Linked DNA regions of Homo sapiens: region 2 is linked to region 1. The links come from fine-mapping of genetic effects on gene expression. A gene starts in region 1. The other region holds a variant in brackets. All regions are shown on one strand. Distances are from middle to middle.

What was found. PIP is the estimated chance that this variant, and not a neighbour inherited with it, causes the effect. A credible set is the group of variants that fine-mapping cannot tell apart.
Region 2: its variant is the best candidate, but not a certain one, in a credible set for the expression of ZNF30 in whole blood (TOPMed, PIP 0.50).

What each region holds. Positions count from the first base shown.
Region 1 is chr19:34,923,767-34,928,981 of GRCh38, reverse strand. It overlaps ZNF30 (zinc finger protein 30), which reads right to left and starts at 2,079. Exons shown (of 5, transcript NM_194325.3): 1 at 1,766-2,079. It overlaps ZNF30-AS1 (ZNF30 antisense RNA 1), which reads left to right and starts at 2,156. Exons shown (of 3, transcript NR_110749.1): 1 at 2,156-2,253; 2 at 5,148-5,215.
Region 2 is chr19:34,861,297-34,866,511 of GRCh38, reverse strand. It overlaps the pseudogene LOC401913. Among named protein-coding and RNA genes, the nearest start is that of LINC03049, 3.2 kb to the right of the region's middle. The variant T/C (reference allele first, on the strand shown) is at 2,676.

The sequences.
Region 1 (5,215 bases):
TAGCTCCCTCTTATCCACAGGGGGGAGATACACTCTAAGATCCTCAGTAGATGTCTGACGGAACCCCATATATACTATGTTTTTTCTTATACATACACACCTATGATTAAGTTTAATTTATAAATTAGGCACCATAAGAGATTTTTATTTTTCTGTTTGTTTGTTTGTTTGAGACAGGGTCTCACTCTGTTGCCCAGGCTGGAGTGCAGTGGTGTGATCTTGGCTCACTGCAACCTCCACCTCCTGGGAGCCTCCCAAGTAGCTGGGATTACAGGTGCCCACCACCACGCCTGGCTAATTTTTGTATTTTTACTAGAGACAGGGTTTCACCATGTTGGCCAGGCTGGTCTCGAACTCCTGACCTCAATTGATCCACCCATCTCAGTATCCCAAAGTGCTGGGATTACAGGCGTGAGCCACCGCACCCGGCCACCATAATTGAGTAATAGCAATAACTAATAATAAAATAGAACAACTATAATAGCATACTGTAATAAAAGTTATGTGAACATGGCCCCTCTCTCTCAAAATATCTTATTGTACCAAAATCACCTATTTTCAGATCATGGTTGACTGAGGGTAACAAAGTGAAGAAAGTGAAACTGCCGATTAAGGGGGCACTACTGCATTGGAGTTATTACGTAAACATTATACATCCTTTATTTCATTTTAATTAAACACTTGTTTCCACTTAATTTAATTTATGTATCTATCTATCTATCTATCTATATATATATATATATATATATATATATATATATTTTTTTTTTTTTAGAGAAGGGATCTCGCTCTGTCGCCCAGGCTGGATTGCGGTGGTGCCATCTCCACTCACTGCAACCTCCGCCGCCTCCCAGCTTCAAGCACTTCTCCCACCTCCGCCTCTCAAGTAGCTGTGACTACAAGCGCACGCCACCATGCCTGGCTAATTTTTATATTTTTAGTAGAGACGGGGTTTCACCATGTTGCCATGTTGGTGGTCTCGAACTCCTGAGCTCAGGCAATCCACCCGCCTCAGCTTCCCAAAGTGCTGGGATTACAGGCATGAGCCATGGCACCCGACCTGTTTCCACTTTTTACTTAAAACGTAAGTTTCTCTGGCATGCTTTCTTTTAATTCTAACTAAAAAATTAAGAGCAACTCTTCTTTAAAAACAAACAAATAAAAAACCAACAGAAAAGATTCTCTGACATTTCAATTTCCTCTGTCCCCTAGCAGCTAGAGAGAGAGAGCTACTGCTGTGGGATAATGCAAAATTGAAGAACCTTAAGAAAAAGCTGGGTCCTATTTCTGTGCAATATGGAGATTGATGGAAATGTTTACAGCTGTCATCTTGCTCTCCTTTCTTACATAATTTTGTCATTAGTTAAGTAATCTGCACAACAGATCCTTTGAAGTCCTTTTCCCTGCACTGATAATTTTCAGATGACATTGCTCTCATCTTTAAAAGGTGTAAATACTTTATACAGTTTTTTCCAAACAAGAAGAGGCTTCCTGGCAATCCCATTTCTTCCCGCTGCATGCAAAAGGTATCATAACTATCGTTTCCTTTTTAAACTGAGAGTTGAAGAGTCTTTTGCTCCTTTACATAAATCAATTACAGTGATTTTATCCAAAATAGTAACAAATATTAATAGCTCAGGTTCGCATGGAGGCCATGCACCCAGTCTTCGCGGATGCACACCGGCCCCGGCCGACGCACCCTCCCTGCCCTGCCGCTCCCGCACTCGCCGGCCCGGGATCCTCGCCCGGTCCACCCAACGCTCACGCATGTCTCAGTCCGGGTTCCGCGCCGACACAGGTCTGCAGAGCTCCCGGTGCTGTGTTCGTTTGCAGAAATTCAAGTTGCCCGGCGGGGCTGCTCCAACCTCGGAGCTGGGCGCTGACTTCTCCCTCGATGAACTCCAAAGCTCGCTGCCGGGTCAACGACCACAATGAACTGGCGAGGAGGCAGAGATTGAGGTCGTTCCAGTGGCCGCTGAGAAATGTAGTTTCAGGCTACATTGGCCGGATAGCTGCAGCCTCTGGGAAATGCAGTCCTGAGCCGTCACACCGCCGAGCATGCCCGGCGCAGTCCACAAGGCCGCCCACCGGCGCCCGGAGACTTCTGGGCGCTCCCGTCCGGCTGAGAATGCGCAGGCGCAGGCGCTCGAGTTGCTGGGAGCCATAGACCTCGAAGCTGGGGCGTCTGACACCTGAGGCCCGAAGTAGGTGGCCAGCTTCTTAGAGGGCCAACCCAGGGCATTAACACACCAGGTCAGAAAAAGCAAAAACAAAAACAAACAAAAAATGATAATCTATACCAAAATATGTTATTACTTTAACACAAAAATATGAAAACTAGGTGTTTGAAATTATCTTTCCGTACTGTTTGCTTTTCGCTACAGAAATGCTATTATTTAACAGAATATTAATAGGATTAATAGTGGCAATTAGACTAATCACGTGTGAGAAAAATATATTTCTGTCCTCTGATACAGGAATTTTAAGTTTCTATTAAATATTTAAATTTTGTGGGTTCTATCTAAGATGCTAAATGTAAGACCTTTTAAAAGGAGAATGTAAATAAGGCTAATCAAACAGATATTAACTATATGTAATAGGCATTTATCTTTCTGTCCCATCATACGTTTAGGAGATATTTACTCTTTCTGGTTCCTTTTCCAGTAACACCTCTCTGTATTAGCTGCCTGTAGCCTTTATGGCATTCTTCTTTTGGTTTATGTAATGCTAAAACTGAATACAGGCAAACGTGAAATTCACCTTGACTGTCAGCTCCGCTTTTTGTTTGTTTTGTTTTTGTTTTGTTTTGAGACAGGGTCTCCCTCTGTCGCTCAGACTGGAATGCAGTGGCGCTATCTCGGCTTACTGTAACCTCTGCCTCCCAGGTTCAAGTGATTCTCCCACCTCGGCCTCCAGAGTAGCTGAGACTACAGGGGCGCGCCACTACACCTGGCTAATTTTTGTATATTTTTTGTAGAAATGGGGTTTTGCCATCTTGCCCAGGCTAGTCTCGAACTCCTGGGCTCAAGCGATCCACCCGCCTCAGCCTCCCAAAGTGCTGGGATGACAGGGTGAGCCACCGCGGCCAGCCGAGCTCTGTTCTTATTAAGCCCACATTACAGTGATTCCTGGAGTCAGTCCAGGGTGATGACATTGATAAGGAGGTGGGGAAGGGGAGTGCTGGGGAGGGAAGGGCGGGGTCCCTTTAAATGATATGGAAGGGGGAAAGGGAGGTGCTGGGTACAGGAGGGTGTGGTCCCTGGCTAGGGCTCCACCCCTGGCCCTGTGCCAACTGACCTAGGTGAGGGCAGGCATTTTTGTTTTCCTGCCCAAATGTTGCGTTTCCCAAGACCACCCTGGCCTGCCACGCCCCCATCCTGTTCCCGCCCCCATCCTGTCCCTATAAATACTCTGAGACCCTAGCAAGCAGACACACAAGCCGCTGGACATCCAGAGGAACATGTTGGCGGAAGAAGACATGACAGACGCTGGCACGCGGGCAGGCCACCCACCAGAAGGACGCGGAGTTTGGCTGGGGCAGTCCAAGGAGAGCCGGTGCTGCGGAGCAGCCCGATTCCAGGGGAAAACCATTTCCCTTCTGGCTCCCCCAACTGTTGAGAGCTACTTCCACTCAAAACCCTGCAGTCATCCTCCAAGCCCATGTGTGATCTGATTCTTCTGGTACACCAAGACAGGAACCCCGGGATATGAAAGCCCTCTGTCCTTGCGATAACGCAGGGATCTAATTGAATTGACTAACATAAGCCGCCTGCGGACAGCTAAAGAGCATCCTGTAACACGCCCACTGGGGCTTCAGCTATAAACATTCACCCCTAGACACTGCCATGGGGTCAGAGCCCCACAGCCCGCCCGTCTGTATACTCCCCTGGAGGTTTGAGCAGCGGGACACTGAAGAAGCGAGCCACACCCCCATCGCACGCCCTGCCAGGGGGACAAGGGAACTTTTCTCTTATCAACATCAACCTAAGTAGCCTCGCATCAAAAGCATTTGACTGTCAATAGTTAGGATTTTCCCTACCAGCAGTAGCAAGTTTTTAGCCTTATTGGAATTAGTTTCCAGCTCTGCAAAAATGTTCATCTGCTTTGTAACTCCAGGCTTTTTTGGTAGAGCAGCTGTTTGTTGACCAGTCGCTTTGCCTCTGTAAGTTCACCATATAGGCTATTCATGTCTAAAGTGTTCATTTTCAAACCCTCTGAAACTCATTGGGTATCTATTACAATGTCTGAAGACAAATATTTCATTAACAAATAAGAAGGTGATAGACCTGGAGTGAGAATCCACCCAATTCATGTCAATCGGAGACAAATTTGCAATATCCTGTGATTCCTGAACTGGCTGTGGTCACTGATCACTTCTGTCCTGGAGGAACTAGAGACATTCAAGACAAATAAGGACTCATCTAGTCCCCTGATTAAAGGACTTTTCATAGAGGCTGCATTAAGGGCCAAATTATGTACAATGTGCTCTCTGAGATGGGGATGTGTAAATAGCCGTCAAAATGTCATCTGGGCAGAAATTTGTTTGGGAGGATAAATTTATGTTCAGGGGTGAGGGGTGAATACAATAGAAATTTGTATTTTGCAGAGGGAAATGTGGGTTCCATGGTGGGTAGAAATAAAATAGATTAGTAGAATACTTAGAATGTCAAAGAAATTTTTAAATCATAGGGTTTTTTTTTTGAGAAAATTTTTGAAATGATTTTGAAATGATTTATTCAAAAAGTGCCCCTCAAAAGTGATCACTCCATAGATGACAGCTAAGGATCGCAATCTTACTGCTATGCCCTTGTGTTTTGAGTGAAGACTTGTGTGACTATAGTGAGGGTCTAGGTGTTTAATCGTCAGAGGTAAATTGGAGATTTCAGATGAGGCTGTCTCATGGAAGAGGGAGGAAGGATACTCACAAACCCTACAGCTGGAATCTGAGCATCCAGTGGAAAATGACAGTCCCTGATCCCTCAGGAAACTTTCTCTGGCCACTGTCAGTGATGTTCTAATCTAGGAGAGCAGAACTTTCCCCCTTATAATGTTTCTCACTGCATTTCCTGAAATATATTTCGTCTAAGTTCCATACGTTTATCTGAAAAGAATAACCACTTACCAAATTGTGTTTCCAACTAGGATAGTGGCCGCAGTTGTATTATCTTGTGCATTTGTCAAGAGAGGTCATCCGAACGCTGAGATAAAGGCTTGG
Region 2 (5,215 bases), 62 kb after region 1:
GCTGATCACCTCCATGCGGTGCCTGGTGATGTCCTGCCAGTGGGCATAGCTCTGGACCTGGAGGATGACCATCTGCCATCCCTCTCAGAGCTTGATGTGTGGAATGTGTCCTGGCTGGTTGGTGAAGTGTAGTAGTTCACCCTATGTCCCCCCATGAAGTGTGTTGTTGTGGGAAGTCAGGGACCCCGAATGGAGGGACTGGCTGGAACTGCAGCAGAGGAACATAAATTGTGAAGATTTCATGGACATTTATCAGTTCCCAAAATTAATACTTTTATAATTTCTTACACCTGTCTTTTTTTTTGTTATTATACTTTACGTTTTAGGGTACATGTGCACAATGTGCAGGTTTGTTACATATGTATACATGTGACATGTTGGTGTACTGCACCCATTAACTCGTCATTTAGCATTAGGTATATCTCCTAATGCTATCCCTCCCCCCTCCCCCTACCCCACAACAGTCCCCGGAGTGTGATGTTCCCCTTCCTGTGTCCATGTGTTCTCATTGTTCAATTCCCACCTATGAGTGAGAACATGCGGTGTTTGGTGTTTTGTCCTTGCGATAGTTTGCTGAGAATGATGGTTTCCAGTTTCATCCATGTCCCTACAAAGGACATGAACTCATCATTTTTTATGGCTGCATAGTATTCCATGGTGTATATGTGCCACATTTTCTTAATCCAGTCTATCATTGTTGGACATTTGGGTTGGTTCCAAGTCTTTGCTATTGTGAATAGTGCCGCAATAAACATACATGTGCATGTGTCTTTATAATAGTATGATTTATAGTCCTTTGGGTATATATCCAGTAATGGGATGGCTGGGTCAAATGGTATTTCTAGTTCTAGATCCCTGAGGAATGGCCACACTGACTTCCACAATGGTTGAACTAGTTTACAGTCCCACCAACAGTGTAAAAGTGTTCCTATTTCTCCACATCCTCTCCAGCACCTGTTGTTTCCTGACTTTTTAATGATTGCCATTCTAACTGGTGTGAGATGGTATCTCATTGTGGTTTTGATTTGCATTTCTCTGATGGCTAGTGATGATGAGCATATTTTCCTGGGTTTTTTGGCTGCATAAATGTCTTCTTTTGAGAAGTGTCTGTTCATGTCCTTCGCCCACTTTTTGATGGGGTTGTTTGTTTTTTTTCTTGTAAATTTGTTTGAGTTCATTGTAGATTCTGGATATTAGCCCTTTGTCAGATGAGTAGGTTGCGAAAATTTTCTCCCATTTTGTAGGTTGCCTGTTCACTGTGATGGTAGTTTCTTTTGCTGTGCAGAAGATCTTTAGTTTAATTAGATCCCATTTGTCAATTTTGGCTTTTGTTGCCATTGCTTTTGGTGTTTTAGACATGAAGTCCTTGCCCATGCCTATGTCCTGAATGGTAATGCCTAGGTTTTCTTCTAGGGTTTTTATGGTTTTAGGTCTAACGTTTAAGTCTTTAATCCATCTTGAATTGATTTTTGTATAAGGTGTAAGGAAGGGATCCAGTTTCAGCTTTCTACATATGGCTAGCCAGTTTTTCCAGCACCATTTATTAAATAGGGAATCCTTTCCCCATTGCTTGTTTTTCTCAGGTTTGTCAAAGATCAGGTAGTTGTAGATATGCGGCGTTATTTCTGAGGGCTCTGTTCTGTTCCATTGATCTATATCTCTGTTTTGGTACCAGTACCATGCTGTTTTGGTTACTGTAGCCTTGTAGTATAGTTTGAAGTCAGGTAGTGTGATGCCTCCAGCTTTGTTCTTTTGGCTTAGGATTGACTTGGCGATGCGGGCTCTTTTTTGGTTCCATATGAACTTTAAAGTAGTTTTTTCCAATTCTGTGAAGAAAGTCATTGGTAGCTTGATGGGGATGGCATTGAATCTGTAAATTACCTTGGGCAATATGGCCATTTTCACGATATTGATTCTTCCTACCCATGAGCATGGAATGTTCTTCCGTTTGTTTGTATCCTCTTTTATTTCCTTGAGCAGTGGTTTGTAGTTCTCCTTGAAGAGGTCCTTCACATCCCTTGTAAGTTGGATTCCTAGGTATTTTATTCTCTTTGAAGCAATTGTGAATGGGAGTTCACTCATGATTTGGCTCTCTGTTTGTCTGTTGTTGGTGTATAAGAATGCTTGTGATTTTTGTACATTGATTTTGTATCCTGAGACTTTACTGAAGTTGCTTATCAGCTTAAGGAGATTTTGGGCTGAGACAATGGGGTTTTCTAGATATACAATCATGTCGTCTGCAAACAGGGACAATTTGACTTCCTCTTTTCCTAATTGAATACCCTTTATTTCCTTCTCCTGCCTAATTGCCCTGGCCAGAACTTCCAACACTATGTTGAATAGGAGTGGTGAGAGAGAGCATCCCTGTCTTGTGCCAGTTTTCAAAGGGAATGCTTCCAGTTTTTGCCCATTCAGTATGATATTGGCTGTGGGTTTGTCATAGATAGCTCTTATTATTTTGGAATACGTCCCATCAATACCTAATTTATTGAGAGTTTTTAGCATGAAGGGTTGTTGAATTTTGTCAAAGGCTTTTTCTGCATCTATTGAGATAATCATGTGGTTTTTGTCTTTGGCTCTGTTTATATGCTGGATTATATTTATTGATTTGCGTATATTGAACCAGCCTTGCATCCCAGGGATGAAGCCCACTTGATCATGGTGGATAAGCTTTT[T/C]GATGTGCTGCTGGATTCGTTTTGCCAGTATTTTATTGAGGATTTTTGCATCAGTGTTCATCAAGGATATTGGTCTAAAATTCTCTTTTTTGATTGTGTCTCTGCCAGGCTTTGGTATCAGAATGATGCTGGCCTCATAAAATGAGTTAGGGAGGATTTCCTCTTTTTCTATTGATTGGAATAGTTTCAGAAGGAATGGTACCAGTTCCTCCTTGTACCTCTGGTAGAATTCGGCTGTGAATCCATCTGGTCCCGGACTCTTTTTGGTTGGTAAGCTATTGATTATTGCCACAATTTCAGCTCCTGTTATTGGTCTATTCAGAGATTCAACTTCTTCCTGGTTTAGTCTTGGGAGAGTGTATGTGTCGAGGAATTTATCCATTTCTTCTAGATTTTCTAGTTTATTTGCGTAGAGGTGTTTGTAGTATTCTCTGATGGTAGTTTGTATTTCTGTGGGATCGGTGGTGATATCCCCTTTATCATTTTTTATTGCGTCTATTTGATTCATCTCTCTTTTTTTCTTTATTAGTCTTGCTAGTGGTCTATCACTTTTGTTCATCCTTTCAAAAAACCAGCTCCTGGATTCATTAATTTTTTGAAGGGTTTTTTGTGTCTCTATTTCCTTCAGTTCTGCTCTGATTTTAGTTATTTCTTGCCTTCTGCTAGCTTTTGAATGTGTTTGCTCTTGCTTTTCTAGTTCTTTTAACTGTGATGTTAGGGTGTCAATTTTGGATCTTTCCTGCTTTCTCTTGTGGGCATTTAGTGCTATAAATTTCCCTCTACACACTGCTTTGAATGCATCCCAGAGATTCTGGTATGTTGTGTCTTTGTTCTCGTTGGTTTCAAAGAACATCTTTATTTCTGCCTTCATTTCATTATGTACCCAGTAGTCATTCAGGAGCAGGTTGTTCAGTTTCCATGTAGTTGAGCGGTTTTGAGTGAGATTCTTAATCCTGAGTTCTAGTTTGATTGCACTGTGGTCTGAGAGATAGTTTGTTATAATTTCTGTTCTTTTACATTTGCTGAGGAGAGCTTTACTTCCAACTATGTGGTCAATTTTGGAATAGGTGTGGTGTGGTGCTGAAAAAAATGTATATTCTGTTGATTTGGGGTGGAGAGTTCTGTAGATGTCTATTAGGTCTGCTTGGTGCAGAGCTGAGTTCAATTCCTGGGTATCCTTCTTGACTTTCTGTCTCATTGATCTGTCTAATGTTGACAGTGGGGTGTTAAAGTCTCCCATTATTAATGTGTGGGAGTCTAAGTCTCTTTGTAGGTCACTCAGGACTTGCTTTATGAATCTTGGTGCTCCTATACTGGGTGCATATATATTTAGGATAGTTAGCTCTTCTTGTTGAATTGATCCCTTTACCATTATGTAATGGCCTTCTTTGTCTCTTTTGAATTTTGTTGGTTTAAAGTCTGTTTTATCAGAGACTAGGATTGCAATCCCTGCCTTTTTTTGTTTTCCATTGGCTTGGTAGATCTTCCTCCATCCTTTTATTTTGAGCCGATGTGTGACTCTGCACATGAGATGGGTTTCCTGAATACAGCACACTGATGGGTCTTGACTCTTTATCCAATTTGCCAGTCTGTGTCTTTTAATTGGAGCATTTAGTACATTGACATTTAAAGTTAATATTATTATGTGTGAATTTGATCCTGTCATTATGATGTTAGCTGGTTATTTTGCTCGTTAGTTGATGCAGTTTCTTCCTAGTCTCGATGGTCTTTACATTTTGGCATGATTTTGCAGCGGCTGGGACTGGTTGTTCCTTTCCATGTTTAGTGCTTCCTTCAGGAGCTCTTGTAAGGCAGGCCTGGTGGTGACAAAATCTCTCAGCATTTGCGTGTCTGTAAAGTATTTTATTTCTCCTTCACTTATGAAGCCTAGTTTGGCTGGATATGAAATTCTGCGTTGAAAATTCTTTTAAGAATGTTGAATATTGGCCCCCACTCTCTTCTGGCTTGTAGGGTTTCTGCTGAGAGATCCGCTGTTAGTCTGATGGGCTTCCCTTTGAGGGTAACCCGACCTTTCTCTCTGGCTGCCCTTAACATTTTTTCCTTCATTTCAACTTTGGTGAATCTGACAATTATGTGTCTTGGAGTTGCTCTTCTTGAGGAGTATCTTTGTGGCGTTCTCTGTATTTCCTGAATCTGAACGTTGGCCTGCCTTGCTAGATTGGGGAAGTTCTCCTGGATAATATCCTGCAGAGTGTTTTCCAACTTGGTTCCATTCTCCCCATCACTTTCAGGTACACCAATCAGACGTAGATTTGGTCTTTTCACATAGTCCCATATTTCTTGGAGGCTTTGCTCATTTCTTTTTATTCTTTTTTCTCTAAACTTCCCTTCTCGCTTCATTTCATTCATTTCATCTTCCATTGCTGATACCCTTTCTTCCAGTTGATCGCATCGGCTCCTGAGGCTTCTGCATTCTTCACGTAGTTCTTGAGCCTTGGTTTTCAGCTCCATCAGCTCCTTTAAGCACTTCTCTGTATTAGTTATTCTAGTTATACATTCTTCTAAATTTTTTTCAAAGT